Homo sapiens: one gene and its partners. The protein of the gene in region 2 interacts with the protein of the main gene of each other region in a biochemical or structural test. Each region holds a gene or a part of one and is shown on either strand. Other genes may lie near its edges.

Region 1 (7,025 bases), on a different chromosome or scaffold from region 2:
ACCCAGCTAATCTTTCATATTTTTTGTAGAGAAAGGGTTTTCACTGTGTTGGCCAGGCTGGTCTCAAACTCCTGGGCTCAAGTGATCCTCCCTCCTTGGCCTCCCACAGTCCTGGAATTACAGGCATGAGCCACCGCACCGCCCTCTTTATCCTTAAGTAACATTGATATGGAGATAAAAAACATGGGTTCTTGGCCAGGCGTGGTGGCTCACACCTGTAATCCCAGCACTTTGAGAGGTTGAGGCAGGCGAATCACTTGAGGTCAGGAGGTTGAGACCAGCTTGGCCAACATGGCAAAATCTCGTCTCTGCTAAAAATGCAAAAATTAGCCAGGTGTGGTGGTACCTGCGACTGTAGTCCCAGCTACTCCGGAGGATGAGGTGGGAGGATCGCTTGAACCAGGGAAGCAGAGGTTACAGTGAGCTGAGATTGCACCACTGCATGTCAGCCTGGGTGACAGAGCAAGACCCTGTCTGAAAAAAAAAAAAAAAGCATGGGTTCTGGAGTTGGAGGTGATCAGTGCTGGGTGTATTAATTTCCCATGGCTGCAATAACAAATTATGACAGATTTTTGGTTTAAGACAACAGGAATGGATTCTCTCTCAGTTCATGGTCAGAAGTCTGAAATCATGGTACTGGCAGGGCCACAATCCCTGGAGAGGTTCTACAGGAAAATCCTTGCATCTTCCAGATTGCAGTGGATCCAGCTGTTGCTTGATTTGCAGCAGCGAAACCCAAGTCCCTGCGTCTGTCTTCACTCCTGTGTCTTGTGTCCTCTTTTTTCCTTTTTTTTTTAAAGTGAGATGGAGTCTCGCCGTGTTATAGGCTGGTCTCGAACTCCTAGGCTCAAGTGATCCTCCCACCTCAGCTGTTCTTTTCTTTTCTTTTTTTTTTTGAGACGGAGTCTGGCTCTGTCACCCAGGCTGAAGTGCAATTGCGCGATCTCCGCTTACTGCAAGCTCTGCCTCCTGGGTTCAGGCCATTCTCCTGCCTCAGCCTCCCGGGTAGCTGGGACTACAGGCGCCCGCCACCACGCCCGGCTAATTCTTTGTATTTTTAGTAGAGACGGGGTTTCACCGTGTTAGCCAGGATGGTCTCCATCTCCTGACCTCGTGATCTGCCCACCTTGGCCTCCCAAAGTGCTGGGATTACAGGCTTGAGCCACCGTGCCCGGCCCCAGCTGTTCTTTTCTTATAAGGACACTGGGCATTGGATTTAGGGCCCACTTTATATCTAGGATGATCTCATCTCAAGATCCTTATCTGCAAAGACCCTATTTCCTAATAAGGTCACCTTCACAGATTCCAGGGGTTACAACTTGGATGTCTGTCTTTTTTTTTTTTTTGAGATGGAATTTTGCCCAGGCTGGAGTGCAATGGCGTGATCTCGGCTCACTGCAACCTCTGCCTCCCGGGTTCGAGCGATTCGCCTGCTTTGGCCTCCCAAAGTCCTGGGATTACAGGGATTAGAGGCATGTGCCACCATGCCCGGTTAATTTTTTTTGTATTTTTAGTAGAGATGGGGTTTCTCCGTGTTGGTCAGGCTGGTCTCGAACTCCTGACCTCAGGTGATCCGCCCACCTTGGCCTCCTAAAGTGCTGGGATTACAGGTGTGAGCCACCGCCACCAGCCTCACATATGGCTAATTTTTAAGTTTCTTCTAGCGATGCGGTCTCACTATTTTGCCCAGGCTGGTCTTGAACTCCTGGGCTCAAGCAGTCCTCCTGCCTTGGCCTCCCAAAGTGCTAGGATTACAGACGTGAGCCACTGCGCCCGGCCAATAAATATTTATGTCCATGTTACTGACAGCAGTGTTCGTTGGTGTGGCATGGGAATGAGCTAGCTTTTCTAGGAGGAGCCCCCTATGCTCCAGGGCTGCCCCGCTGTCTTGGCTCACCGGCCATGGGAGGGAGTCCTGGGCCATGATCTGTACCTAACATAGGAGGCCCAGGAGAGGCACGTGGGGAGGACTTCCAGCCCTGTTCCTTGACGTCTGCACCCTCCAGGGGAAGGATGACAGCTGCAGAAGGGCCTGTCTCTGTCACTCTGTAGTGAACAGTTACTTCTTGCCATCTGAAGTCACCCTGGCCTACGTCCATGAGATTGGCCAAATGGCAACTACCAACACCAGGCCATTTTCCCTGTGCAGAGGGGGAGGCCCTTTGGCGTGGGCTTCCTGGGCTTGAGGAAGCTTTGGCATGGCCTCTGGAGTTCCTGGGCATAGGCTGCCCTCCCTTGGAAAGGAGGCAGTTTCTCAGGGAGGGGTGCCGGGAAAGAGAACAGAACAAACTCTCACTTCCCCAGCCCTGTGGCGCTCTTTCTGGAAATGACTGTGTCACTTTTCTTTCTTGGTCAGCACGAGTCAGTGTGGCCAGTGCTTTAGACTCTCCCATCCCCTTGGCTCAGAAGCTTACACAGCAGCATGGGCTCCGTCAGGGGCTAAACTTCAGTTTGTGAGGGGCATGCCATGGGGTGGAAAGTTCAGAGAAAAACCCTTTGTCCAAAGAAGGTGAAGAATGGCCTGCTGTCACCGAACCAGGGGCCCTTGTGACTTCCTTTGGTTACACTCCTGGGATCCCCCTGACAGCTGGGGCAGGGGTATAGAAGAGCTTGTTATGTGCCCCATCTTTAGGACATCTCGGTGTCAAGCTGGAGTGACAACAGGGAAAGTTAGTAACCCCAGAAAGGCATTTGTGTTTCAGCGGTGCCTGCGTGTGGCTAATGGATACCGTCATTTATTGAGCATTTATCCCGTACCAGACTGTGCATAAACTTGTGTTGACTCAAAATGCTTGACCTTGGGGGCAGCTAGGGAAAGGGCAGTGATATAAATTAGGCCTATGGGCCACATTGAGCCTGTGGCCTATTTTTATCTGTGTTTGTATTTTATTAGTGAGACAGAGTCTCACTGTGTTGCCCAGGCTGGAGTGCAATGGCATGGTCTTGGCTCACTGTAACCTCCACCTCCCAGGTTCAAGTGATTCTCATGCCTCACCCTCCTGAGTAGCTGGGATTACAGGCCTGTGCCACCACCCTGGCTAATTTTTGTATTTTTAGTAGAGACAGGGTTTCACCATCTTGGCCAGGCTGGCCTCGAACTCCTGACCTCAAATAATCTGCCTGCCTCAGCCTCCCAAAATGCTGGGATTACAGGTGCGAGCCACCGCACCCAGCCTGTGTTTTATTATTTATTTATTTTGAGATGGAATCTCGCTCTGTTGCCCAGGCTGGAATGCAGTGGCGCAATCTCGGCTCACTGCAACCTCTGCCTCCCAGGTTCAAGCGATTCTCCTGTCTCAGCCTCCCGAGTAGCTGGGATTACAGGCACATGCCGCCATGCCCAGCTAATTTTTTGTATTTTAGTAGCTCACTGCAGCCTCTAACTCCTGGGCTCAAGTGATCCTCTGGCCTCATCCTCCCAAGTAGCTGGGACTACAAGCACATGTCACCACCCTTGGCTAATTTAAGCAATTTTTTTAGAGACAGAGTCTTGCTGTGTTTCCCAGGCTGGCCCCAAACCCCTGGCCTCAAACCATCCTCCTCCTGCCTGAGCCTCAGAAGTAGCTGGGATTATAGTCACGAACCGCTGGGCCCGGTGTGGCCTATTTTTGTACAGACAAAGCTAAGAAAGGCTTTTACAGTTTTTGAGAGATTGATTAGGGAAAAAAACTAAAACCCAATCCACAAACAACAATAATCAGTTGAGACCACAGTGTCCTGCAAAACCTGAAATATTTACTCACTGGCCCGAGGCAGGGGAAGCTTGTAGACCCCTGGGATAAATGAATGAGGCAGGCAGGAGTTGGGGTCTGTGGGGAGTTTGGCCCCAGCCAAAAGAGAAACCAAAAAATCCTCAGGCCGAATAGAGCATACTTCTGAATTGTGTGAGCCCCTTGTGCCAATTGTGGCGCTTACTGTATGTTACCACTTACTCTGAAAAGAGTTCTGTGAGGTCAGAGATACCAACCCCAATTTACTGGTGGAAAAACAGAAATGAAAGAACTTGACTGGCCAAAGTGATGTGGTTGGCAGGCAGCAGAGATGGCTTTGGCATTCTGGGTGACTGGATGCCCACCTTAAATGCATATATAAGTGGTTCAGTGACATTTATCTGTTCATCACAAAGACCCAAAGTAGCAGAGGCTTAATTAAACACGATGGCATTTTATTTTTTGTGCTCTAATGCTAAAGTGTGAAGATTGTCAGGTGCCAAAGTCTCCTGGGCTCTTGGAAGTTCCCAGATCCAGGTCCTCCCCCCGGCTTTTTTTTTTTTTTTGAGATGGTGTCTCGCTCTGTTGCCCAGGGGCTGCAGTGCAGTGGTGTGATCTCAGCTCACTGCATCCTCTGCCTCCCGGGTTCAAGCGATTCTCCTGCCTCAGCCTCCCAAGTATCTGGGACTACAGGCGTGTGCCACCACGGCTGGCTAATTTTTGTATTTTTAGTAGAGACGGGGTATCGCCACGTTGGCCAGGCTGTTCTCAAACTCCTGACCTCAGGTGATCCACCCGCCTCGGCCTCCCAAAGTGCTGGGATTACAGGCCACTGCCCCAGGCTGATCCTCCACCATTCTTAAGGTGAGGTCTTGTCCTCAGGTTTCAGCATGACTGCTGGAGTCCCGCCATTACACCCTGGCTTCCAGACAGCAGGACAGAGGAAGGGACAAAGGAGAAAGGGTGCAAAGGTCACATCCAGGTGTTTGTTAAGAAAGGTTCCCGGTAGCTGATGCAAGGTGCTTCAGCTTTCATTTTGTTGGCTAGAATGTAGTCACATGATCACTGCCAGCTGCAAGGGATGCTGGGAAATGTAGTTTTCAATCTGAGCGGCCATGTGCTCAGCTGAATTTAGGGTTCCAGTTTCCATGGACAAAGAGAGAACATACAGGGAGTCACCTTGGCCACAGTGGGTAGGATCTGGACCTGGCCAGAATGTTGGGAAGGACGTTTCTGGGTTATGGAGAGGTGCTCCAGTGGGCCAGGGCTGGAGACAGCCACCTGGCTTGGAGCACAGGGTCCCCTGTGAGGAGTGGAGGGGCTAAAAGTGGAAACAGGGCTGGGTTGGAATCGAGGATTTTTTTGGTTTTTTTGGAGATGAATTCTCGCCCTGTCACCCAGGCTGGAGCACAGTGGCTCAATGTCATCTCACTGCAACCTCTAGCCTCCCAGGTTCAAGTCATTCTCCTGCATCAGACTCCCAAGTAGCTAGGATTATAAGTGCGTGCAACCACACCCAGATAATTTTTGTATTTTTAGTAGATACGGGGGTCTCACCCTTTTGGCCAGGCTGGTCTTGAACTCCTGACCTCAAGTGATCCATCTGCCTTGGCCTCCCAAAGTCCTAGGATTACCGGCATGAGTCACCGCACCCAGCCTCAGGTGAAATCTTAATGGAAGGTGTCCAGTGCTGTGAGCAGCTCCTGGTCACCAAGCACTGGCCCTCTGTGTAGGGGGTCTGGATGAGATGGGTGGGCAAGGCCTTTCAACAGAAGCTGGAGTGTGGTGTGAACTTGCTAATGACTTTGAGATGCCAAGCCTCACACACCTCAGACCAGGTTGGATTTAGCAGGTGGAGAGGCTCAGGAAGACCTCTGTGGCAGGTGTGTCTCCTTTCTGCGGAAACCTGCTGCTTCTAAGGTCTGCTGGAGAACCTGGGAGGTGGTGAGTTTGCAAAGACATCCAGGGAAGCAGCCACTTAAGCGAGGGCAGGATGGAGGGGCCCACCTGGGCCACACCTGGCTGCTTGAGGTGGCGAGTTGAGGCTGGGAGGGGTTTCCATCAGTTCCATCAGCTCAGAGCTAGGATTTTTTTTTCTTCTTTTTTTGAGACAGGGTCTTGCTGTGTCACCCAGGCTGGAGTGCAGTGACACGATCATAGCTCATTGCAGCCTTGAACACCCAGGCTCAAGGGATTCTCCCTCCCTCAGCCTCTCTACAGGCTGGGACCACAGGCGCACATCACCATGCCTGGCTAATTTTTTTTTTTTTTTTTTTTTGTAGAGACAGGGTCTCACTATGTTGCTCAGGCGGATGTGGAACTCCTGGGCTCAAGCGATTCTCCTACCTTGGCCCCCAAAGTGCTGGGATTACAGGTGTGAGTCATGGCAGCCACGGCTCCAGAGCTCGGGTTCTTAATCTGGTCTGTGGATGGCCCCTGGGGGCGGTCCCATGAGCCCCTCACAATTGGACACAGTTTTGCAAAGGGGTAAAAGGACAAGAATCGGTAGCTGTGACTGTGGATGAGCCTCTGAGCTTCACTTTCCCTCCCTGAAAGGGGGTGACAGTGGCACCTCCCTGGAGGTTTTCGTGGAGGGGAGGAAACACATGTAAAATACTTCACCCCAGTTGGGCACAGAGGCTCATGCCTGTAATCCCAGGTTTTGGGAGGCCGAGGCAGCAGGGCGGTTTGAGTCCAGGAATTTACAACCAGCCCGGGAAACACAGTGAAACTGTATCTCTTAAAAAATAATTTAAAAAAATTAGCCGGCATGGTGGCACATGCCTCTAGTCCCAGCTATTCCAGAGGCTGAGGCGGGAGGATTGCTTGAGCCCAGAAGCTTGAGGCTACATTGAGCCATAATCGTACCACTGCACTCCATCCCGGGAAACAGGGCAAGACCTTGTCTCTAAAAAAAAATGCTTCTTGCTTGATGACTTGTGATATATGAAAAGGAAGAAAGAAAAGAAAAGCTTTGCCCTGTGTGCCTGGCCCGAAGTAAGTGCTCCATAAATTGGCCGTGGTGTAGCTGTGGATTCTCTGCACATTTTTCTGTGCAGAACCTCCCCTGATTTCGGTCAGCTTCTCAGAAGGATCTGTGACTGAAAAAGGGTACCAGTTCCTGGAGGACAGCACCTGATTGGGGAGTGGAGTCTGCCCTGGCTGGTAAGGGATTGGGGGCTCTCTGCGCAGGGCCAGGACATCTCTCCAGGGACAGGCGAGAAGCTTTGAAAGGGCAGGAAGGAGAGGGCAGCAAGGTCAGATGCCGTGAGAGGTCAGAGTGAGAGCCAAGGGGCGGTCACTGGATTTCTGAGC
Region 2 (7,025 bases):
TACTTAACTGCCTAAAGCACAATTCTGCCCCATCCATTAAATGGGTAAAATGGAAAGTCTAAATTCCTGTATTATAAGCCCTCCATGATTGGCCCCCTTGCTCACCTCTACAGTCAAGTTTTTGGCTATTCTACCAGTCAGACAGCACTCACAGGTTCCCAGAACAGGATATACCTGGCCTCACACAGTCTCCTTTCTAGCCTGGGCTCATTTTTACTAATCCTATCTCTATCTGTGAGATCCCAAAATCAGACACAATTCCTCAAAGACAGCCACCAGGATAACTACTGGGTTAGGTTCTCCTGTTCCTCCCACTATATACGTACTTCCCAAATACAATGCTGATCACACCAGACTCCGTGAATGCCAGTCTTCTTCCCTTATCTATAAACTCCAGGAAGGAAAGAAGGAACAATGTACAGAGGATAAGTTCCTGGCATACAGAAAATGTTGGCCTAATACAGAATAACTGCCATCTTGTCAACTCTTCTACGCCAGTATTCTTCAAATTATGGCTCAAAAGCCAACAGTGGGTCATAAAAATCAATATAGTAGGCTGCAACCAGTACTAAAAAAAAAAAAAAAAAGAAAAGAAAAAAAAGCAACAGAAAATATGAGAGTATATTACAAGTAATAAGGGTAAGTATTCTTGTGCATTCTTTGAAACAGAGTCTCTAGTGCTACAAGTTAAAGGTAGTTCTTCCTTAAGTGTTGTAAAAAAATTCTTTGGAGCACTGCACTGCTACTTTTCTTCTTCCTCCTTTATAAGAAAGTTTCTTAGAGGCAGGCATAGTGGCTCACATCTGCAATCCCAGCTACTCAGGAGGCCGAAGCAGGAGGATAACTTCAGCCTGGGCAACACAGCAAGACTCCATCTCAAGAAAATTTATTCTTTAAGACCCAGGTGGCTGGGCACGGTGGCTTACCCCTGTAATCCCAGCACTTTGGGAGGCCGAGAAGGGTAGATTATGAAGTCAGCAGATCGAGACCATCCTGCCTAACATGGTGAAACCCCATCTCTACTAAAAATACAAAAAATTAGCCGGGCATGGTGGCGGGTGCCTGTAGTCCCAGCCACTAGGGAGGCTGAGGCAGGAGAATGGCATGAACCCAGGAGGCGGAGCTGGCAGTGAGCCGAGATCGTGTCACTGCACTCTAGCCTGGGTGACAGAGCTAGACTCCGTCTCAAAAAAAAAAAAAAAGATCCATGTAAGAAAATGAAAAATAGAAAAAATTATGCTTAATTGGCCAGGCACTGTGGCTCTCGCCTCTAATACCAGCACTTTGGGAGGCCGAGGTGGGCAGACTGAGGTCAGGAGTTCGAGACCAGCCTGGCCAACACGGTGAAACCCTATCTCTACTAAAAATACAAACATTAGCCAGGCATGGTAGCAGGTGCCTGTAATCCCAGCTACTTGGGAGGTTGAGGCAGGAGAATAGCTTGAACCCAGGAGATGGAGGCTACAGTGAGCCAGGATTGCACCACTGCACTCCTGTCTAGGAAACAGAGTGAGACTCTGTGTCTAAAAAGAAGAAAGAATATGCTTAACACAGTTCTTTATCAAGAAGCCATTCTTAAACATTTCTAACAAGAACAATGTTTTCCATTTTCTCATTATGCCTTAACTATCTGCTGATTTTCATTTCTATTACTTACGTATACAAGACATCTTACATGATAGGATATATAAGATGTCTTGTATACGTGACATGATAATATATATGATATATATATACGTGACATGATACAAGATGTCATGATACTATATATATATGGTTGTCCCTTGGTATCTGCTGGGAATTGGTTCCAGAATCCACTCCCTCCACTGCAGATACCAAAATCTGAGGATGCTCCAGTCCCTGATATAAAGGGGACATGTAGTATTTGCATATAACCTACACACACCCACCCATATACTTTGAATTCTTTCTGGATTATTTACAATACCTAATGCAGTGTAAATGCAACATAAATAGTTGGTGCACTGTATTGTTTAGGGAATAATGACAAGAAAATAAAGTCTGTACATGTCCAGTACAGATGCAACCATGGATTTTTTTCCCCTAAATATTTTCAATCTGTGGCTGACTCCACAAACACGGAACCCTCAGATACGGAAGGCTAACTGTACAGTATTTTTCCATTTTAAGCTCTGTTCCTATATTCTTATACTCCTAGAAAACAACATTTGGATAGATGACATAAGGCTTACTCTTAAGACTCCTCTATGAACATCATGCACTTGGCTTTCTCTTTATCCAGTCTATCTATACAGGAGTTCATCCTTACCCCGTTTCATTTTCTGCCATTTCAAACACCTGTGGTACAAAAATATTACAAAGAAAACTGCAGAAATAAACACTAATTTTTGTTGTTTTAGAAACAGAGTCTTGCTATGTCACCTAGGCTGGAGTGTACAGTGGTGTCATCATAGCTCACTGTAACCTCAAAACTCCTGGGCTCAAGAGATCCTCACACCTTAAGCCTCCCAAGAAGCTAGGACTACAGATGCATGCCACCATGCCTTGCTGACTTTTTAAATTTTTTTTCTAGAGATGGTGGGGGGATGGGGGGTCCCACTACATTGCCCAGGCTGGTCTTGAATGCCTGGCCTCAAGCAATCCTCCTGCCTCAATCTCCCAAAGTGCCAGGATTACAGGCGTGAGCCACAACAATGTTTTAAACTGTGCGCCATTCTGAGTAGCCTGATGAAATCTCACCTGACCGGGTAGTGAATCTCCCCTCCGTCTAATGTATTCACCTGTATAAACTACCAGCCATTTGTCACTTAGTAGCCATCTCAGTTATCAGATTGTCAGACTGACTATGGGGCAGGGCAATGCTTGAGTTTTAAGTAACCCTTATTTTACTTAATGACAGTCCCTAAGTCCAAAAGTAGCAATGACAGCTATATGGATATGCCAAAGAGAAGCTGTAAATTGCTTGAAGGTGAAAGTTCTTGACTTAATAAGGAATGAAAAAAAATTGTATGCGGAGGTTACAAAGATCAAATCTATACATGAAATTGTGAAGGAAAAAAATTCGTGATAGTTTTGCTGTTGTACCTCAAACTGCAAACATCACAGCCACAGTGCATGACAAGTGATTAGTTAAGATGGAAAAGGCATTAAATTTGTGTGTGGAAGACACGGACAGAAACGTGTTCTGACTGATGACAATTATATTCACTACTATACAGGGTTTCAGGTATCCACTGGAGATCTTGGAATGTATCCCGCAAGGATAAGGGGGGACTACTGTATATCCACGAAAAACAAAAACAGGCCGGGCGCGGTGGCTCATGCCTGTAATCCCAACATTTTGGGAGGCCGAGGTGGGTGGATCACGAGGTCAGGACTCCCTGTCTCTACTAAAAATACAAAAATTAGCCGGGCATGGTGCTGCGCAGCTGTAGTCCTAGCTACTCCGGAGGCTGAGCAGGAGAATCGCTTGAAGCCGGGAGACGGAGGTTGTCATAGGCCGAGATCACGCCACTGTACTCCAGCTTGGGCAACAGAGCAAGACTTCGTTGCAAATCAAAAAAACAAAAACAACCCCCAAACCATCTACCACTGCTTTCCTTCTGATATATTTAGCAGTAAAGTTAAAAACAGTTAACAATGAACACATACTACACAGAAGCAAGCATAGTCCTAAGCATCTGATAAAGAGAATTCTCATTTATTCCTAACCACAATCCTGTAAGGTGGGTAAGTAAGGTGGATTCCTATAAGGTGCGCACCCACCTTACAGGGCTGTGGTTAGGAATAAATGTGAGGAGGTTGAGCCAGGTTAAGTATTTGGCCCAAAGTTCACAGTTAATAAATACAAGCCTGGGCTATGAACTCTAGCAGTCTGACTCCAATACTCATTCTCTTAGCTACTCTCTTACTCTTTTCAGTACTTTTAGTTTTACTCTCTCTCTCTCAACAAAATTACTTCTAGGGCCAGGTGCTATGGCTCACGCCTGTAATCCCAGCACTTTGGGAGGCTGAGGTGGGCGGATCACGAGGTCAGTGTATGGAGACCATCCTTGCTAACACGGTGAAACCCCGTCTCTACTAAAAATACAAAAAATTAGCCGGGTGTGGTGGCGGGCGCCTGTAGTCCCAGCTACTCGGGAGGCTGAGGCAGGAGAATGGCTTGAACCCGGGAGGCGGAGCTTGCAGTGACCCGAGATCGCGCCACTGCACTCCAGCCTGGGCGACAGAGCGAGACTCCGTCTCAAAAAAAACAATCACTTCTAATTGCTTTGGGACATTTATAAAAAAGAATCTAGATCTAAAAACAAATTATATCCAAATTGCTCAGAAGAGGCTTAACACCTCAATTATTATTTATCCTCTTAAGCGCTTCTGGGAAAGTGAGCAGTAATTTCCCATGAAAATTTCAAAATGAAACTACCGTCTATTAAGCGAAAAAAAATCACCTGCGAAGTTCAATGTTAAAAAATTTTTTAGCAGGGAGGGGAGAGGGATAGCATTAGGAGATATACCTAATGCTAAATGACGAGTTAATGGGTGCAGCACACCAACATGGCACATGTATACATATGTGACAAACCTGCACGTTGTGCACATGTATCCTAAAACTTAAAAGTATTAAAAAAAAAAAAAATTTTTAGCTGGGCGCGGTGGCTCACGCCTGTAATCCCAGCACTTTGGGAGGCAGAGATGGGAGGTTCACAAGGTCAGGAGATCGAGACCATCATGGCCAACATGGTGAAACCCCGTCTCTACTAAAAATACAAAAAATTAGCTGGGCATGGTGGCAGGCGCCTGTAGTCCCAGCTACAAAGCGAGACTCTGCCTCAAAAAAAAAAGAAAAATTTTAGACTTGGTATAATTGGTTTCATTTGCCCATTAATTTTACTGCTTGCCTCACTTAAAAAAATATTCAACTTTAGAAATCTTCAAAGAAGGAAACCCTAAAATCTGGACAAACATAAAACTAGCATCTTTTACTTTTCCATTAATTGCTGGGTATATGAATTGGCAGAATAACTCTCAAATTGTTTTTGTAAATATACCAGGAAAAAGTATTTTACACTCCCACTTGTATCTGCAACACTCTTCCTACTCTTTTTCTCTTTCCTATTTACCACTTAATGTCCCTACAAATACCACTTTGCATTAATTTTCAACTGTTTCCATTTTTTTGTTTTTATTAAATAAAGAAGAGAGAGAAAAGCAAAGAAAAACACAAAATAATGCCAAAAGGCCACCAAGGCAGAAACCCTTTCCTCCCTCCTCCCTATTATCCATTCACTGGACATGCCAATACAATTCCAACCTCTGCTATAGAAGATGAACTCCTGCTGGAATAAGACCCCCATATTGTAACGCATTCAAGATTTACAACTTAAAAGTCACTTTATCTCACTATCAACCAGAGACAACCTTCTTGAAGTCCTATAAATGAACTTACAAGGCCTTGAGAATAATTGCCAGAAAAACTTAAAGCACTTTAGTAAAATGTTTTGCAATTTAATACTGAGGAGAGAAATGCCTCACTAAATCAGGAGCTATATCTGCAAGACTCCAGAAGCAAACTCTTATGTAAACATTCAAGCCAAAATAAAATAAAACATAGCATATCACAAGTTACAGAGCTGGAAAATAAATGGTCTTGATCAAAATGTTTTGGTTAGGATGACGAACCACTAACACAATGGCATTTTAAGAAAATAGAGCTGACAGCCGGGCATGGTGGCTCACGCCTGTATTCCCAGCACTTTGGGAGGCTGAGGCGGGTGGATCACCTGAGGTCAGGAGTTCGAGACCAGCCTGGCCAAAATGGTGAAATACTGTCTCCACTAAAAAATACAAAACTTAGCTGGGCATGGTTGTGGACACCTGCAATCCCAGCTACTGAGGAGGGTGAAGCAGAGAATCGCTTGAACCTGGGAGGTTGAGATTGCAGTGAGCCAAGATCGAGCTACTGCACTCCAGCCTGGGCAACGAGAGCAAACCTCTGTCTCAAAAAAAAAAAAAAAAAAAAAAAGTAGAGCTGACATTTTAAAAAGCCTTACCACTTCTCCACTGTGTACATTAATCTACTGGTCAAAAAGCAGGTATACTTTACACACTATCTGCCCTGTGTCTTTGAAATGGGGGAAAAACTCAAAAAACAAAAAAGCACAAAACCCAGGGCCACAAAACTGTACCAAGACCAGAAGGATCTTTACCCTACTTAATTATATGCCAGATCCTAAAATCCTATCTTTCCAGGTGCTTTTTAAGTGCATACGGCATTAAGCGTTTACCAAGCAGTGACAAAACGTGTTCACTGAGTAATGAAGACAACAGATGACCCTCATCATTTCCATCACTCAAGATGATCAGAAACAGCTCCAAAAGATATTTCCAGGATTTGCCTAACATTAACTTTTCCAGTCTTTTGGTCATTTTTACAAAAAAAGTTTACAAGTGGCTTTCATAATCTTTTTTTTTTGGAGGGAGAGGGAGAACAAAATGTCATTTCTCAAATGATTTGTTTTACCCTAACCATACCAAATGAAATAAAAATTTCAATGGATCAAATGCAAATACTGAAACAGGAACATAAAGGTGTGAAGGCTACAAATAAGTCTTCTCTTCCCCATCCCAACACGTAAAAGTTGAGTTTAACCTAAGTTATTTGAATCAACCTGGAAATTTTTTAGGAGAATATCTGAGTATTAAACAGCAATTCAGAGGTTGAGATTTAAGTAATAATTTGATTTGTAACACTTTAGCATGTCATCCCATTGGATTCCAGTTTTCTTTCCTTTAAAGCTGACATTAGAACGCTCTTGGTGGATATATTTACATCACGAAATTTGCAAGCCTAAATCACTTTTTTTAAAAAAGTTTTAGGTGCTAGAATTTCGGGCTTATTTCAACCAGTTCTAGACAAAAACCATAATATCAAGAAATAATTTTCTTTCACATTTATAAAATACCCAAGTGACAACTCAAAAATCAAAAGTTACAAGTTTGAAACTTAAAAGTTTTAAGAGGTGATGTGCCTCCAATAAAAGTTA
Region 3 (7,250 bases), on a different chromosome or scaffold from region 2:
GAGGTTTGAACTACAGTGAACTATTAACATTGGTAAAAGAGTTAGCTATGACATAGATATTCATGAAGGTTCTTTTCAGAATATCAGCTCAATTAAATTCAGGGTCATGGTCACATCATTTAAAGTACATGGGTTTGCTCATAAAGCCTTAAAATCATAGCAAAAGAGCAAGCAATAATAACTGCAACACTTTCTCCGTTTCAAAGATGACAAAATTGAGAGAAAGGATAAGGTACTTGCCTAAGCCATAATAATTGAAACAGTTGAAAATGTAAACAGTCATACTCTGAATGAAATTCTCGGCATTAAAATATTGATGTGTACTTATTGTTGAAGAGAAATTTTAAAAATATGTAAATCTGTTTTTACAAAATAATTTAAACATATACTATTATTGATGACAGATATTATCTAAACATCTACAAAAGTTTTCCCCAAAACATGGCCTATTGCATCTGAATAGATTTTATCCCAAGAACCTACTTTAAGTGCATTAAATAAAATTTAAAACATGACATTTTAGTTAAATAACAGCTTTAAAACATATACTATATTACTCCCCCAATCTACCTCTGTATTTTGAGAAAACGCAAACAGTAAGTAAGAACTTCCAAGAAGATTTCAAATAATCTTAAATCTAAATTTTTGATTTAGAACGCTATGAAACTAACTGAAGTTGATACGCTGGGGATATCTACACTTGCAAGATGGTTGTTCACAACTCTTACTATTCTTTTGTGGAGTCAAATTAGATCCGTTTCAAAGGACCTTTGTAAGCAATTAAAATCACTGCGCTTTTTGTTGCTTTGGGATATTAAGAGAGAGTAAGCAAAGTGGAGATCTACCAGGAAAAATAAGCAAATTAGAAATTCAGTTGTGGGGGGTGCATATGTTTACGCTTACACACTAGTGACTTCACCAAGTTTTCTCTATTAGTGAGTTTTTAAAAATCCTCTACAGCTAATATTTATTTAGTGGAATCCTATGAGACCAAAAACTTCTTCCAGTACATTTGCCACACCTAATGACATACTGTATTTCCAAGTCCAAGTGACAACGAATCCAGCAGAAAGACACCCACAATTAGAATGACCAACTCTGTCCTATGCATTGGGAATATATAGATGCTAGGAAAGAAGTGAAAGTGTGGGCCAGAATGTGTGAAACATTCAGAAAATGTCATTTTAACATATTTTCCTACTTCATGAAAGCCTCTTGTTATTAATAACGATTTTATAACCTGAAAACTAAATGAAATGTATTATTAATACTTGTATATGTTCCACGGTTGTGCCTTTTACACAGCTTTCATGCACATAATTATCTTGATAATTAAGGTTAGTGGCTAACATCCTTATTGTCAGAAAATTACAGAAGAAAAAAGTATTTGTTTATATTTATATAACACTGATTAAAAACAATTCACTACGACCATTAGTAATCCACTTCTAATTCATATTCCTCATGTCACACCTTTTCTCTTGTACACATTTTAAATGTCATAGGAATTTAGAAATATTGCAATTTAAAGCATAATCTAGAATTTTTTTAAAAGTAGTTCTGAAACATACAAAAAAATGAACATTTAGGAAACTAGTCCTTCAAAGAAAATATTATATTTTATCATTAAAAATATCAATCGCAAAAATATTTTCAAAGCACTTAAGTTCAATAAAGAATATGAGGCCGGTGGACATTTTAGTTTTAATTTTAAAAAGAAATTATATTCTTTTTAATGTAAAGAAATGAGAAAACGACATCCAAAAAGTCTTCAGCCTGGGATTCTACAAAACTTTATACCTCACTGATGCCATGGTTTTACAGCAGTTATTGTTTAAGAACTAGAAACAAACTTGTAAATATGAAAAAAGTTTTTGATTTTAAAAAAAACCATCATTAGTGTTTCTCTTTTCCTTCAAGTGAGTTTTAAAAGACTGAGATGGCCACCAGTTGATTCAAAGATCTCTTAAGACATAATTATTAGCAAGTTAACTATCAAATATCATATAATTTAAATCAGGGAGAAAAATTATGTGAAGTACACAAGAAGACAAAAATGGACAGTTTTGTAATACACTTCACTTTTTGGCTGAGACATTACCTTTAAAGTTTCGTATATTAAAGTGAATATTCAAATACACTTTATTTGGAATCAAATAAAGTGTATTTGATTCCAAAGTGAATCTGATTGAAAATATACTACACAAAACTTACTTTAAAACTTGAACAGAATGTTTTGATATATTACTCCAAATGCTAACTGGTAGCATCTATGAGTGTCTTCTGTCAAACTCCCCTAGGAGTGAAAGGTATTTCTTTAAGAGAAAAGCCACAGTGAATGTCCATGCCAGTCCCTATACCAGAAAGGTTTTCTAAATCATCTAGCACCATCAGTTGGTTCTGTTCTCAGTCAGCAATCGATCACTTAGCAATAGACAGAAAGACTGCCATAAAATACCTGAAACCTGTCGAAGATTTGCCCAGGTCCTTTTAAAGAGTTAAGTTATTCATTGTTCTCTTAATAAATCCAGTTAACAATTTGTCTCACGAATGACAGAAACAGTTGGGGTTAAAATAATGTACTTCAAAATCAGAGGTTTTCCAGGAATAGGTATTATACAACTCAGTTTATCATTGTCTGGTTTTATATCCAAATGATAATTTACACAAATAAACTTTACATTTTGTCCCTAATCTTGCAAGGAAAAGAAGAAAAATTTTAGTTTCTTCATGGCAGACGACTATTTTTGACTTGATTTCTTTTATAACAATGACACTATTTTTACAACCGTTAGCCTATGACCCAAGTGAATTGGATTCTTCTTATAAAACAAGAGCACTGCAAAAAAAAATGATATAAGGATAATACAATAATTTTGCAAATTTCGGACCTATCACCAACACATTCCAACAAAATGCAATGAGAGTGAGCCAACTCACCTAAGGAAAGGGAATTAAGCAGAATGCAGAAATGCAGGCTTCTGGTCACCAGCAGAGGTTAAGGCCCCTTCCTTACCTACCACTGACCTTATATAAAAGCCGCAGCTCGGTTACTCCCCGTTTCTGACTCCTTACCTTAGGCTCCTCCCTAAACACCGAGGCGTAAAGTACCACGACTACACACCCACCTTCCACCAAGGGACCTGAGATTTCTGTTAACCTCTGCTGCCTCTACCCCCCTCAGTTAGGCTCCCAGGAGGAGTGGTCAGCGCCTGGCACTTGCAGGAGCCCACAAAGCAGCGACTTCGCCTTTCCAGCCCCCCGGGGTGCGGCTGGGGGTCCTGGCTGCGCGCTCCATCCGCGGAGGCACGGAGGCACCCAGTCCCCGTCCCCAGCCCCTCCGCCGGGCGTAGGGCCAGCACAACGCGTCAGGGCACAGGGCCTGGCCAGCTACAAGCGCGCCCCTCGCTGAACGGTCCCCCGGTCCCCAAGCGGCGGTCGCCCCTGGGCTCTGGACAGCGAACGGGACCTCCTCCTCAGCAGGGGTGCCGCGCGGCCTCAGGACGGACGCACGCGGATCTTCGCTTCCCCGGGTCCAGACACCCTGCTCCAAAGTTCCCCCGGAGCGGCTCCCGACGCTTGCGCACCTCCGCCGGGGACGCGGAGGTCCCCGTGTCCCCGGCTCCGCGCCCACCCGGCGCTCTCCCGAGGGGGGCTGTCCTGGAAGCCGGGACGCACCGGCTCGCGTCCACTCGAGTCGGCACCGGCCGCGGCTCTCTGTGCCCGCGCCCTCCGCCCCTAGTGCGCGCTCCGGTAGACGCGACCCTCAGCCCGGGTGCCCTCAGCCCAAGACCCCTTCACCCGGTCACCCGTGAGCCGCCCGCCCGCGACCCGTCAGTCCGGGTCCTGCCGGACCATGACCCTGCCTCAGCCCCGGACCCCTCAGCCGAGACCCCCTTCTCCCCAGCTCTCATCCGTCTGGGACCCCGTCAGTTCCCGTTTCCTCGGCCCTAGCCCCCAGACCCTCGGCCCCAGCCCTCCGCGCCCCCTCCCTGAGCACTCCCCGCCCAGCCAGCAGCCGGTTCCCGAGCGCCGCGGGCACCCGTACTCTGACCTGCGGCCACGGCGGCGTGGCGCCCCTCTCCGGTGTCCTCGAGGCCGACCCAAGCGCCCCAGGCGGCGGCTGCGGCTCGGGCTCGGGCTCCGAGTGCGCTGGGCCCCGCCTGCCCGCGGCGGAGCCGGGTCGGGCCGAGCCGGGCCCGGCGCGGGGGCGGGCGCGGGCGCCGGCTGGGGGTGGGGGTGGGGGTGGGGGTGGGGGCGGGGGCGGGGGCGGGGGCGGGGGCGGCGGCGCGCGACTGGGAGGGAGCGGCCCGGGCTCGGCCGCCGCCCGCGCACAGTAGGGCCCACGGCGGGAGCCACCGGCTTTCCCGCGTCCACTCTCTGCCCCGCGGCAGGCTACCTGGTGTCGTTTGCTCCTCGCCACCACCGCTGGGAGGCGGCCCAGAGAGGGTCCCATTTCCGAGGAGGGATCCGAAGTTTAGGGGGATGCCCCCGGCCAGGGCCGGTCTGGGGAGACCGAGGTGTGGGGCTCCCTCTCGGCCAGAGTGGCTTGCCCTTCACACGGCGATCGGCCAGGCCGTCTTCCCAAGATGTTCTTTCCAGTGACATTTTAAAAGAAAATTTAATTAAAGCATATTTCGGGTCCCTTGGTTTTCTCTTCTGATCGGTGGTGCTGCACACTTTCAGAGTTCCTTGCGTTTGTAAGTTACATGGTTATTCACAAGTCACTGACTTTTAATCATTAAAAACATTTCTTAAACTCATTAACAGAATTTCTTAAATTTCTTAGCAGTGTTTCTGACACCGAGGGACTCAGACAACATGGGTGGGGACGGAGTGGGGACGTGAGGCACGAGAAACAGTTTCTCATGTGTTGGGTAGACAGTGACCTTTTCTTTTCCTGCCACGCTGTCCATCGTGACCTGTCCAAAGTGGGTTGGCAGGTGCGCGTTCAGAAAGCCGCTGGTCTCCTGGACTTGAGGCCCCTCTTTCCCTTTTTCCAGTCTTATTTCTGGAGCATACTGTTCTGGGCCTGATCCTCTTTGGGGAGGCAGCGATGCCTGAGGCCCCCCACTTCAGGAAGCTTATGGACTGTATGCTGGGGTGCTCTGCATTTCTTCCTAGCTTCATTGTGGTTATTGCCCCTCTGGTACAGAAGGTCCTCGTTTGTGGTTGAAGCAAAGTTTTGCGAGGATGGGTATCACAAGGGAAAATATTCAGCGCTTAAATCAACATAATCATGTCCTTCCTCCACAGCCCCTAAGATAAGAAGCTGAGAGCCACGGATCTTACAGGGACTGACCACTGAAAGACCATTTATTGGCCTGTGATTTAGGTAGTCAGGTTGACCCGGATCCACAGTCTCCACTCAGGCGGAAGTGCTCCGTGCGTCCTACTTCTTGTTAATTCCAGAGTTCCAATCTGCTTTTTTTTTTTCTTTCTTCCTTTCTTTTCTTTCTTTCTTCCATGAGACAGGGTGTTGCTGTGTCGCCCAGGCTGGAGTGCTGTGGCGCAATCACGGCTCACTTCAGCCTCGACTTCCCGGGCTCAAGGAATCCTCCCACCCCAGGCTCCCAAGTAGCTGGGACTACAGGTGCACACCACCATGCCTGGCTAATTTTTTTTTTTAATTTTAATTGTTTAGTAGAGACTGTGTCTTGACATGTTGCCTAGACTAGTCTGAAACTCCTGGGCTCAAGTGATCCTCCTGCCTCAGCTTTCCAAAGTGCTGGGATTATAGGCACCAGCCACTGCGCCTAGCCTGCTTTTTAAAATCACAGCTTTATTGAGGAATAATTAATATAATCTAAAATGTAAATACCATAGAAGTAAAATGTACAATTCAGGCCGGGTATGGCAGCTCACGCCTGTAATCCCAGCACTTTGGGAGGCCGAGGCAGGTGGATCACTTGAGGCCGGGAGTTCAAGACCAGCCTGGCCAACATGGTGAAACTCCATCTCTACTAAGAAATACAAAAATTAGCTGGGCGTGGTGGCACGTGCCTGTAATCTCAGCTACTCGGGGGGCTGAGGCAGTAGAATCGCTTGACCCTGGGAGGCAGAGGTTACAAGCCGAGATTGCGCCACTGCACTTCAGCCCCAGAGCAAGACTCCATCTCAAAAATAAATAAATAAAATGTACAGTTCAATGAGTTTTAGTTTATTGACAGAGTTGTGCCATCATCACCAAATCTACCCTTAGAACATTTTCATCACTCCAAAAAGGAACCCCCTCTCCATTAACAGTCATTCCACCAACTCTAGATAGAGATATTCTTTCTCTATAGATTTACCTATTCTGGACAATTCATATAAATAGAATCATAGAATATGAAGTCCTTTGTGACTTTCTTCTTTCACTTAGCATAGTATTTGTGAGGCTCATCCATGTTATAGCTTATATTAATATTTCATTCCTTTTTATGGTCAATATTCCATTATACACATATACCACATTTTGTTTATTCATCCCATGAATTGATGAATATTTAGGTTGTTTCTACTTTTATGGGCTATTATGAATAATGCTGCTGTGAGCATTCATGTACAAGGTTACTTGTGGACATATATTTTTATTTCTCTTGAGTATATACCTAGGGACAGAACTGCAGGATCATAAGGTAACTCGGTGTTTTTGAGGAACTGCCAGTCTGTTTTCCAAAGTGGGCACACCATTTTACAATCCCACCAGCAATGTGTCAGGGTTCCAGTTTTTCCACATCCTTGTCAACACTTGTTATAGTCTTTTTTATTTTAGCCAACCTAAAGGGTATGAAGTGATATCTCATGGGGTTTTGTTTGTTTGTTTGTTTTGAGACAAGGTATTGCTCTCTCACCCAGGCTGGAGTGCAGTGGTGCAATCATAGTTCACTGCAGCCTCGAATTCCTGGGCTAAAGCAATCCTCCCACCTCAGCCTCCCAAGTGGCTGGGACAACAGGTGCATGCCACCACACCAGCTAATTTTTGTATTCTTTTGTAGAGATGGGATCTCACTATGTTGCCCGAGCCGGTGTCTCATGGTTTTGATTTGCATTGCCTTGGTGACTATCCCGTTGAGCATCTTTTCATGTGTTCATTGGCCATTTATCTTTTTTGAAGAAAGTCTGCTTAAATCCTTTCCCTGTTTTTAAATTGGATTATTTTTCTTTCTATTGTTGAGTTGTGAGAGTTATTTATTTATATAGTCTATATCCGAGTCTCTTATCAGATACATGATTTGCCAATATATTATTCCAGGCTGTAAGTTGTC
Region 4 (7,104 bases), on a different chromosome or scaffold from region 2:
AACCTGAGTACATTTTAAATATTATAGGACAAAAGCCTCAAAGTGGAATTCTGCCTCATCTTTCTCAGAACTATAAACCAGTCAGACACTGTTTCAGAGATTACGCTAGAAAATATGTACCTATCCTTGGCACTTTTGCTGAGAAATAAAACTCTCATCACTGGAGATAAAGGTAGATTTATATTTAATGCCACCCATCAATCAATCAGTGTATTATTCCAATCTACCTCTATTTAAGTAGTTGAATCAGGTATAAACAGAAACACTTGATTTTTTTTGCCTCCTGCCCATTGAAAAAGATAATGTTGAGTATTGCAAACCTTTCTAACTCTGGAGTACACTTGATATGATGGCAATTAAGAAAAAAAAAAAAGCAGTGACAACTTTGCAGCTTTTGATTAAAGCACACCAAGAGGCATGTTACAATGATAACAATGAAGCATTATGCCAATTATGTTAAATCCTGCTCTCCGCTTAAGCTCATCATGACCTGTTTTAGTGTCCTGTAATTTATCCTTTGGAATGCTTACTCTCATCAATAGTGTTCAACTCAAAGACGGGGGGAAAAAAGCCACCAAAGGGAACAACCACCCCCAAATGACTTCTAGAAAACAAGTTATTTCTTAACTTTTTATTGACATTGGCAAATTAAAATAGAATAAATTAACAAGTATTTTTTCAAAAAAATGTTTTGTACAAAAATACTGTCAAAATTTCCTAAAAAGCTTTCAACACAGTAGTATCTTTTCATGTACTGAATATAACTATTAGCACAGTGTCAAAAATGTTGAAGACAGAAACAAAATAAAAATCTGTGAAATGTTTGCCACTGACGACATTCCACACCCTATTATCATCTGTACATATGGGGGTGGGGGGGGCGGCGGGGGGGACAGCCAACTTGAAAGTGAACAGTATGACTTTCCTGATCCAGAACAGTTTGGCCCACATCTGTTTAATCTTCCAGTTTAGCATATTTTAAAAATTAGTCTGTACTCAAATGCATAGTTAAAAAAATGAAGCGAGATGGCAGTTTGTGCAGTAATATCTGCCCTTCGAAGTTCATGCAACCAACTAATGCAATTTTTCCTTTCACTCGTAAATCTGAATGCAGTTCAGTCATTTGAAACCATCTACAAAATCCACAAGATTAAGCAGTTTGCCAAGATTAATATCTAACAGTTGAGCACTGGAGAAAGTGAGGGAAAGGAGTAAAAACAAACAACGAAAAAGACCAAGTTAGCTAGATATTTCAACTACATAAGGGAGGTGGGTGAATGTCAAGGCTACAAAAACGAAACAAAAACAGGAAAAAAAAGTGGCAGCAATTTTTTTTAAAACCAATTTGTACAAGTTTATAGTTTACTTTGTTTCCAAGTTCTCAAACCTTTCAAGATCTGAAAAGTGAGATACTGTGTCTAAGGGAATGTTTCTTTTAATTCACGCCGAAGAAGTTGGGGGTTTGATTTCTTTCGCCGGGGTTTCGATCGAGTCAACAGCTCACTCTGCTGGGCTGCTGTTTGCACACGAAGTCCGTCATAAAATCAAACTCGTTTTGCCCCAGCCAGAGTTCGGGCAGCTCCTTGATGCGGTCCAAACCCATTTCTATCACCAAGGACATAAGAACTTCCTCGTCGATGAAATCAGTGTCTATGACATTGGGCGGCAGCATTGCAGCGGGGACGTGGGCCACGGAGGCGGGCATGTTGCCGCTGCCGCTGCCGCCGCCGCTGTTGCTGCTGCCCGCGCCGCCGCCCGAGCTGCTGCCAGAGCCGCCGGGGGTGCTGCTGCCGCCCGAGCCGCCGGGGGTGCTGCTGCCGCCGCTGTGCTTGGGGTTGCAATCTCGGAAGTGCTGGTTTGTCCCGTTCATCTGGTGGCCTGCAGCAGGGTGCAAATCCGGCATGTAGTGGTTGTGGGGGTAGGGGTGATGGTTGAAATACTGGTTGTTGAGCTTCTGCAGCTGCATGCTGGCCGGCAGGGAGCCTCCCTGGCTGGCCACCGGGGGACCCATGAACTGGGAGTTGTTAAACCTGGCCGCGGGGGCCAGCGCGCTCGGGGGGTGCCCTCCGTTCACAGTCCCCGGCCCCATCGCATGCCTGATGCCGCTCGTGGCATTCATGTTGCCCGCGCCGTAGTGTATGTGCTCGCCCATTAGGGCGTTGAAGGCGTGCTGGGGCTGCTGCTGCTGGTGGTGATGGGGGCTCGGGAACTGCCCCATGCCCATGCGGTGGGCAGGGTGATGGTGCAGCCCATTGGTGCCGTCGGGGAAGCGCCCGTGGTTCATGGCCATCATATGGTCTGCCATTTCCAGTCCTGGAAGTGAAAAGGGCAGATAATGAGACCCGCGCCACACGTGTCGCCCACCACAGCGCACCCCACTTTTGCTCGCCTCTGCCCCCCAGGATTCCCGGGCGCACGTCGGCTGCGAACCACCACCCCCAAGATCCCACTAACAGCCTGTGCACCCGGGCTAGCCACCACGGAAGAGCTACCACTCATAACACAGCCGGACGCTGCACAAACAGCCCCTTCCCCTGCGATCGGGCGGGGGGACCCGAGCCCACACCCCCTTTGCTCCCCGAAGTGGCCTAATAAAGGAAGTGCCCCGTAGCCCTGCTGCGAACTTCAGGCATTAAATCAGCCCTCCTCATCCTGTTGTTGCACATCCTGTTGTTATTCCCCAGCTTCGCCTCACGCTCTTCCTCCGGGCAAACCCTGCCCTCGGAGGACTGGGCTGGCAAGAGCCCCAGCCAGCTTCGCCCGTCGCGCTTACCTTCCGTTTTTGCGATTTCTGCTCCGAAGACCGAGGGCGGGCTCGTCGCGTCCAGGACCGGCTCAGCAGCACATAGAGGGGACCTTCCTGGCGTGCAAAGCGCTTCGCTGTCGCGATGTCGGCGCCGAGGTCTCGCAGCGGCCGCTGGGGCAGATTCGGAGCCGTTCCCTTTTATTTCCCCTCCGTTGCCCTCACAGCTCGGCAGGACCGCCCGGCAGCTGCCAACAATGAGCTGTGTTTCTTAGGGCTTTGGCCACAGTTAATATAGGCATTTCGGAAAGGCGGAGCGAGAGCCTCCAGGGCGGGCGGCGCCAAGACGCGGATTCCGGAACACCGCGAACACCCTGGACCGGGTCCCGGAGCCGCGTCCCCGCCGCCCGCGGCACGTGCTGCAGAGGCTGCGGGGCCCGGGGGCCGCCCAGTCGCCCCGTCGCCCCCCGACTCTGGTTTCTTCCCGGCCCAGAAACGCGAGGTTGGCTCAGCCACCCCCGAGGCAGGGGGAAAATCCTCCCCTGCCGCCCCGCCCGAAGGTAGAGCCTGCCGGGATAGCCACGAGGAGAGCTCACCGCCCCCCTCAGGCTGGATCTACCCCACCCCCAGCTTTCTCACTCGGTTCACCTAGCGATCTGCCCCGCTCTCTACGGGAAAAGGGGACTCGCCCAGCGCCCCCCGCCCTCCAGAGTGCCCTTGTGCCTCCCCGGTTTTGCAAAAGCTTCCACAGGCAGCGAAGAATGGCTGTGCTTCCTCGAGTTGGGTTTTAAAGACCCGGACAAATAATGCGCCCTTTCCTGAGCGCGCCTTCCTAGGCTGTGCCTTTGTGTTTTCATACGGGCAGTGGGTAGACCTACTCTAGATCACCGCTTGTAGATGCATTTTTTTCCTCCACTCCTTTCAAGGACAGGAGCTGGGGGCGGGGAGGGGCAGCCGCTGCAGGTGGACGGAGCGCGCTCGAGGGCCCGGCCACCCCCGCTCCCGCGCCCTGGAATTCCAGTCCGCGCTTTCGGGCCCGCCTGCCGCTCCCGGGGTACGTGTGCTTCTGCTAAGTTTGCGTTTGCAGCTCTTGGTAGCTTTGGCATCCGAGCTGAGGCGTCTCTGCTCTGTAAACAAACTCAGCGATCCTCGTCCCCAGATCCACCTTTTTGCACATACACAGTTACTTGCTTCTGCTGTTGCCCTGGATCCGGGAGGTGGGGGTGTGTACAAACTTGCAGAGCCTCCCTCCGGGCTCTGCCTGACGGTTTGGGGTTGATTTAGAAGCAAACGGGTTTGTAATTAAGAAATTTGAGGGCTGAGTAAGGCTGCTCTTGCTGGAAAAGGAAAACAAATAGATAACGTGGTAATCGCTTTGTAAATAAAGTCGTTCTGGAGGTGGGCACGTAGCTGCACGTCCCGTATGGCACCACGCGCACACACACGGCTGGGACTCTTCCTTTTCAGTGAAATTGTTCAGTGGGGCAATGGGCGATAATAATAACCTTGCTTCCACAACGCGGCACAACGAGCCTGGTCGCCCGTTTGGTTCATTGACTTGCAAATAAAACCCCTAACACAGGTCTGGGCTACTACCAAGTCGGAGCTCTCTGGCTTTCTCACATGGGGAAGCCGAGTTGTTTCCCCAACACCATGATGGGGCTGTTCTGAGCTTTTACATTGCTCTTTATGTGGTAAAATCGAGTTTAGCGCTCCGAATAAGGACTTCTGGGCAGTTGTTTCTTCATAACTCGATAGCCATTGAAGACTTCCTGCTGCGAAGAGCGAGTCCGCCTCCCCGCCCCCCCCTCGTCTTTTTCCCCCTTCTTGCACACAAGACTTTTAAAGGCCCTGTTTCTTGAGGACTGGAAATTCTGATACATTTCCCCGTTCAGGAATTTGCAAAAGAGACCCAATCCTGATTATTTTCGTCTATGACCCCTCTGTCTTTTCCTAGTCAGGCATATTTTTGTAAATGTTGTTACTTTGTGTCTTGTCTTCTTTCCTCTTCCAGGCTCTCCGGCAAACCGTGCAGGCAAATAATTTTTAAACCTCAAAAATATTTACTTTTTAGAGATACGGGCACATGACACATTGCATTGTTAGTTGCAACAATTCCCTATTCTCCTAACCTCCCACCACCTTTACCTGTAGGTCAGGACATGCAGTTTACCGTATCAGAGGCTTGGATACCTGAAGGGGCCACTTCCTATAAAAAAACAGATTCTAAAATATTGGTAAAACCCAACCTGAAAAATCGCGGGATTGTTTACTTTCCCTTCTTTGTACTGCAAGTGTCTTTCGACACAAGAAACAGCTTTTGAATGTCTAATCTAAATTCCTCTTGCAACCACTAAGGAAAGGTGGAGCTCCATCCAGCTCCAGTGGTTCTACCTACTATTGGGAAATCCCTGGAAAGGTCACCTGCCCATCCCCCATCCCTTAAAGGAGAACAAAATAGTTCTGGGACCAGCTGGTTGGAACATGGCATGCTTTGTTCATTTATTCTCATCCGTCCACTGAATGTCCTCCAAGTGCCAAGTGCTTTCTTGGTGCCTGGAGATACAAACAAGATAGGAACTCATGGTCACAGGGAGAAAACTGACAAACAGGCCTTGAACACACTGTGATAAATGCCACAAAGGCATTGAAGGAAAGGGCTTTGGAGAGCACATAGGAGGGACACCTACCCCCCTCCTGGGTGCTTTGGGAAGGCTTTCCGGTGGAGATGGTGACTAAGTGGAGGCCTCAGGATGAATGGAAGTTTGGTCCCATTAGGAGTGGGGTAGAAAATGTATGGCTAGGGAGTGAATGCAAAGATGAGAGAAATAAGGTTGGAGAAATATGCTGGGGCCGGATGCCAAGGGCATTGTGGCCTCAAGCTGAGAAATTTTGCTGTATCCCAAAGACATTGGGAGGCAGGTAAAAGCTTGTGAAGCCATGAGATAGGAAAGATTTGGATTTTAGAAAGATCAGGGCAGTACTGTGGAGAATGGTTAGAGAAAGTAAGACAGGAAACAGGGAGTCCAGTTAGGGGGCACTTACAGTAACCCAGGGCTCCCAGAAGTTCCGTATAACCAGGGTTTATCCCGTGAACCTGGGTGAGCGAGCAAGTGATCTGTCTGTGGCCCTCACAGCACTGAATGGTTGTATTCATTTCCCAGAGCTGCCATAACACAGTACTATTTAGGTTGGTGCAAAAGTAATTGTGATTTTTGCCATTGAAAGCAATGGCGAAAACTGTAATTACTTTTGCACCAGTCTAATACAAACTTAAGGCTGATCAAGCTTTAAACAACAAAACATTATTGTCTCACAGTTCTGGAGGCTAGAGGTACAAGGCCAAGTTGTTGGCAGGGTTGGTTCTGAAGACCGTGAGAGAGAATCTATTCCGTGTCTCTTTCCTGGCTTTTGGTGGTTTCCCGGCAATCTTTGGTGTCCCTTGACTTGTAGATGCATCACACTGATCCCCACCTTCATCTTCATGTGACGTTTTCCACCCCCCGCCCCCCTGTATGTGTATCTCTGTGTCCAAAGTTCCCCTTTTGACAAGGACTCTAGTCCTTTTGGATTAGGGCTTCTCCTACTGGCCTCATGTTAACTTGATCACCTCTATAAGCTCCTGACTCCAAAGAAGGTCATATTCTGGAGGTTAGAACTCCAACATATCTCCAAGATATTTTTGCGGGGACACAATTTGACTAATAACAGTGGTAAATAAACTGAGTAATACAAGACCCCTGCTGCTGACAAAGAAAGTTGCCACCTGGAACTGTCTTCCCAGACGTCCTACTGGCCCATATTCTCATTTCTTCATGTCTCTGCTCAAATATCACCTCAACAAACTCTCCCTGACTGTCCTACCCAAATAGCAATATCTCTCTTGTTTCCTTGCCCTGCTTTATGTTTCATCTTAGAGTATCTTCCTACCTGACATGCTGCATGGTAAATTGACAGTTTACTGCCTTCCCCATTAGAATGACAGCTCCATGAGAGCAGAGACCTAGCCTGGTTGTTCATTCACTGTCTGAAACAAGTCCTGGCAGGTATTAGACTTTTACTAATTGAAGGGTGAATGCATGAATAAAATATGGCATTGGCACTATGGGAACCCCAATGAGGGGCCAAGGAAGACTTTCTGGAGAAGGTCACTCTCAAGGCTGGAGGTAGGCCAGGTGCAGTGGCTCACACCTGTAGTCCCAGAACTTTGGGAGGTTGAAGTGGGAGGATCACTTGAGCCCAGGAATTCGAGACCAACCTGGGCAACATCTTGAGATCCTGTCTCAACAAAATAAAATTAGAAAATGAGCTGGGTGTGGAGGTGCATACCTGTAGTCCTAGATACTGGGGAGGCCGAAGCG

Evidence for each region.
Region 1: the proteins of EP300 (region 2) and CARM1 form a complex in vitro, tested with the Homo sapiens proteins (5 studies listed by BioGRID, with this or other methods).
Region 3: the proteins of EP300 (region 2) and PPARG form a complex in vitro, tested with the Homo sapiens proteins (6 studies listed by BioGRID, with this or other methods).
Region 4: the proteins of EP300 (region 2) and CITED2 form a complex in vitro, tested with the Homo sapiens proteins (5 studies listed by BioGRID).

The regions. Positions count from the first base shown.
Region 1 is NC_000019.10:10,874,547-10,881,571, forward strand, and holds part of CARM1 (histone-arginine methyltransferase CARM1), read left to right. Parts: intron 1-7,025. UniProt on the Homo sapiens protein: Methylates (mono- and asymmetric dimethylation) the guanidino nitrogens of arginyl residues in several proteins involved in DNA packaging, transcription regulation, pre-mRNA splicing, and mRNA stability.
Region 2 is NC_000022.11:41,095,592-41,102,616, reverse strand, and holds part of EP300 (histone acetyltransferase p300), read right to left. Parts: intron 1-7,025. UniProt on the Homo sapiens protein: Functions as a histone acetyltransferase and regulates transcription via chromatin remodeling. Acetylates all four core histones in nucleosomes. Histone acetylation gives an epigenetic tag for transcriptional activation.
Region 3 is NC_000003.12:12,284,825-12,292,074, reverse strand, and holds the start of PPARG (peroxisome proliferator-activated receptor gamma), read right to left. Parts: upstream 3,006-7,250; 5' UTR 2,941-3,005; intron 1-2,940. UniProt on the Homo sapiens protein: Nuclear receptor that binds peroxisome proliferators such as hypolipidemic drugs and fatty acids.
Region 4 is NC_000006.12:139,371,640-139,378,743, forward strand, and holds CITED2 (cbp/p300-interacting transactivator 2), read right to left. Parts: upstream 3,010-7,104; 5' UTR 2,774-3,009; intron 2,724-2,773; exon of another isoform or gene 2,625-2,723; intron 2,575-2,624; exon of another isoform or gene 2,500-2,574; coding exon of another isoform or gene 2,493-2,499; intron 2,314-2,492; coding exon of another isoform or gene 2,306-2,313; coding exon 1,493-2,305; 3' UTR 168-1,492; downstream 1-167. UniProt on the Homo sapiens protein: Transcriptional coactivator of the p300/CBP-mediated transcription complex. Acts as a bridge, linking TFAP2 transcription factors and the p300/CBP transcriptional coactivator complex in order to stimulate TFAP2-mediated transcriptional activation.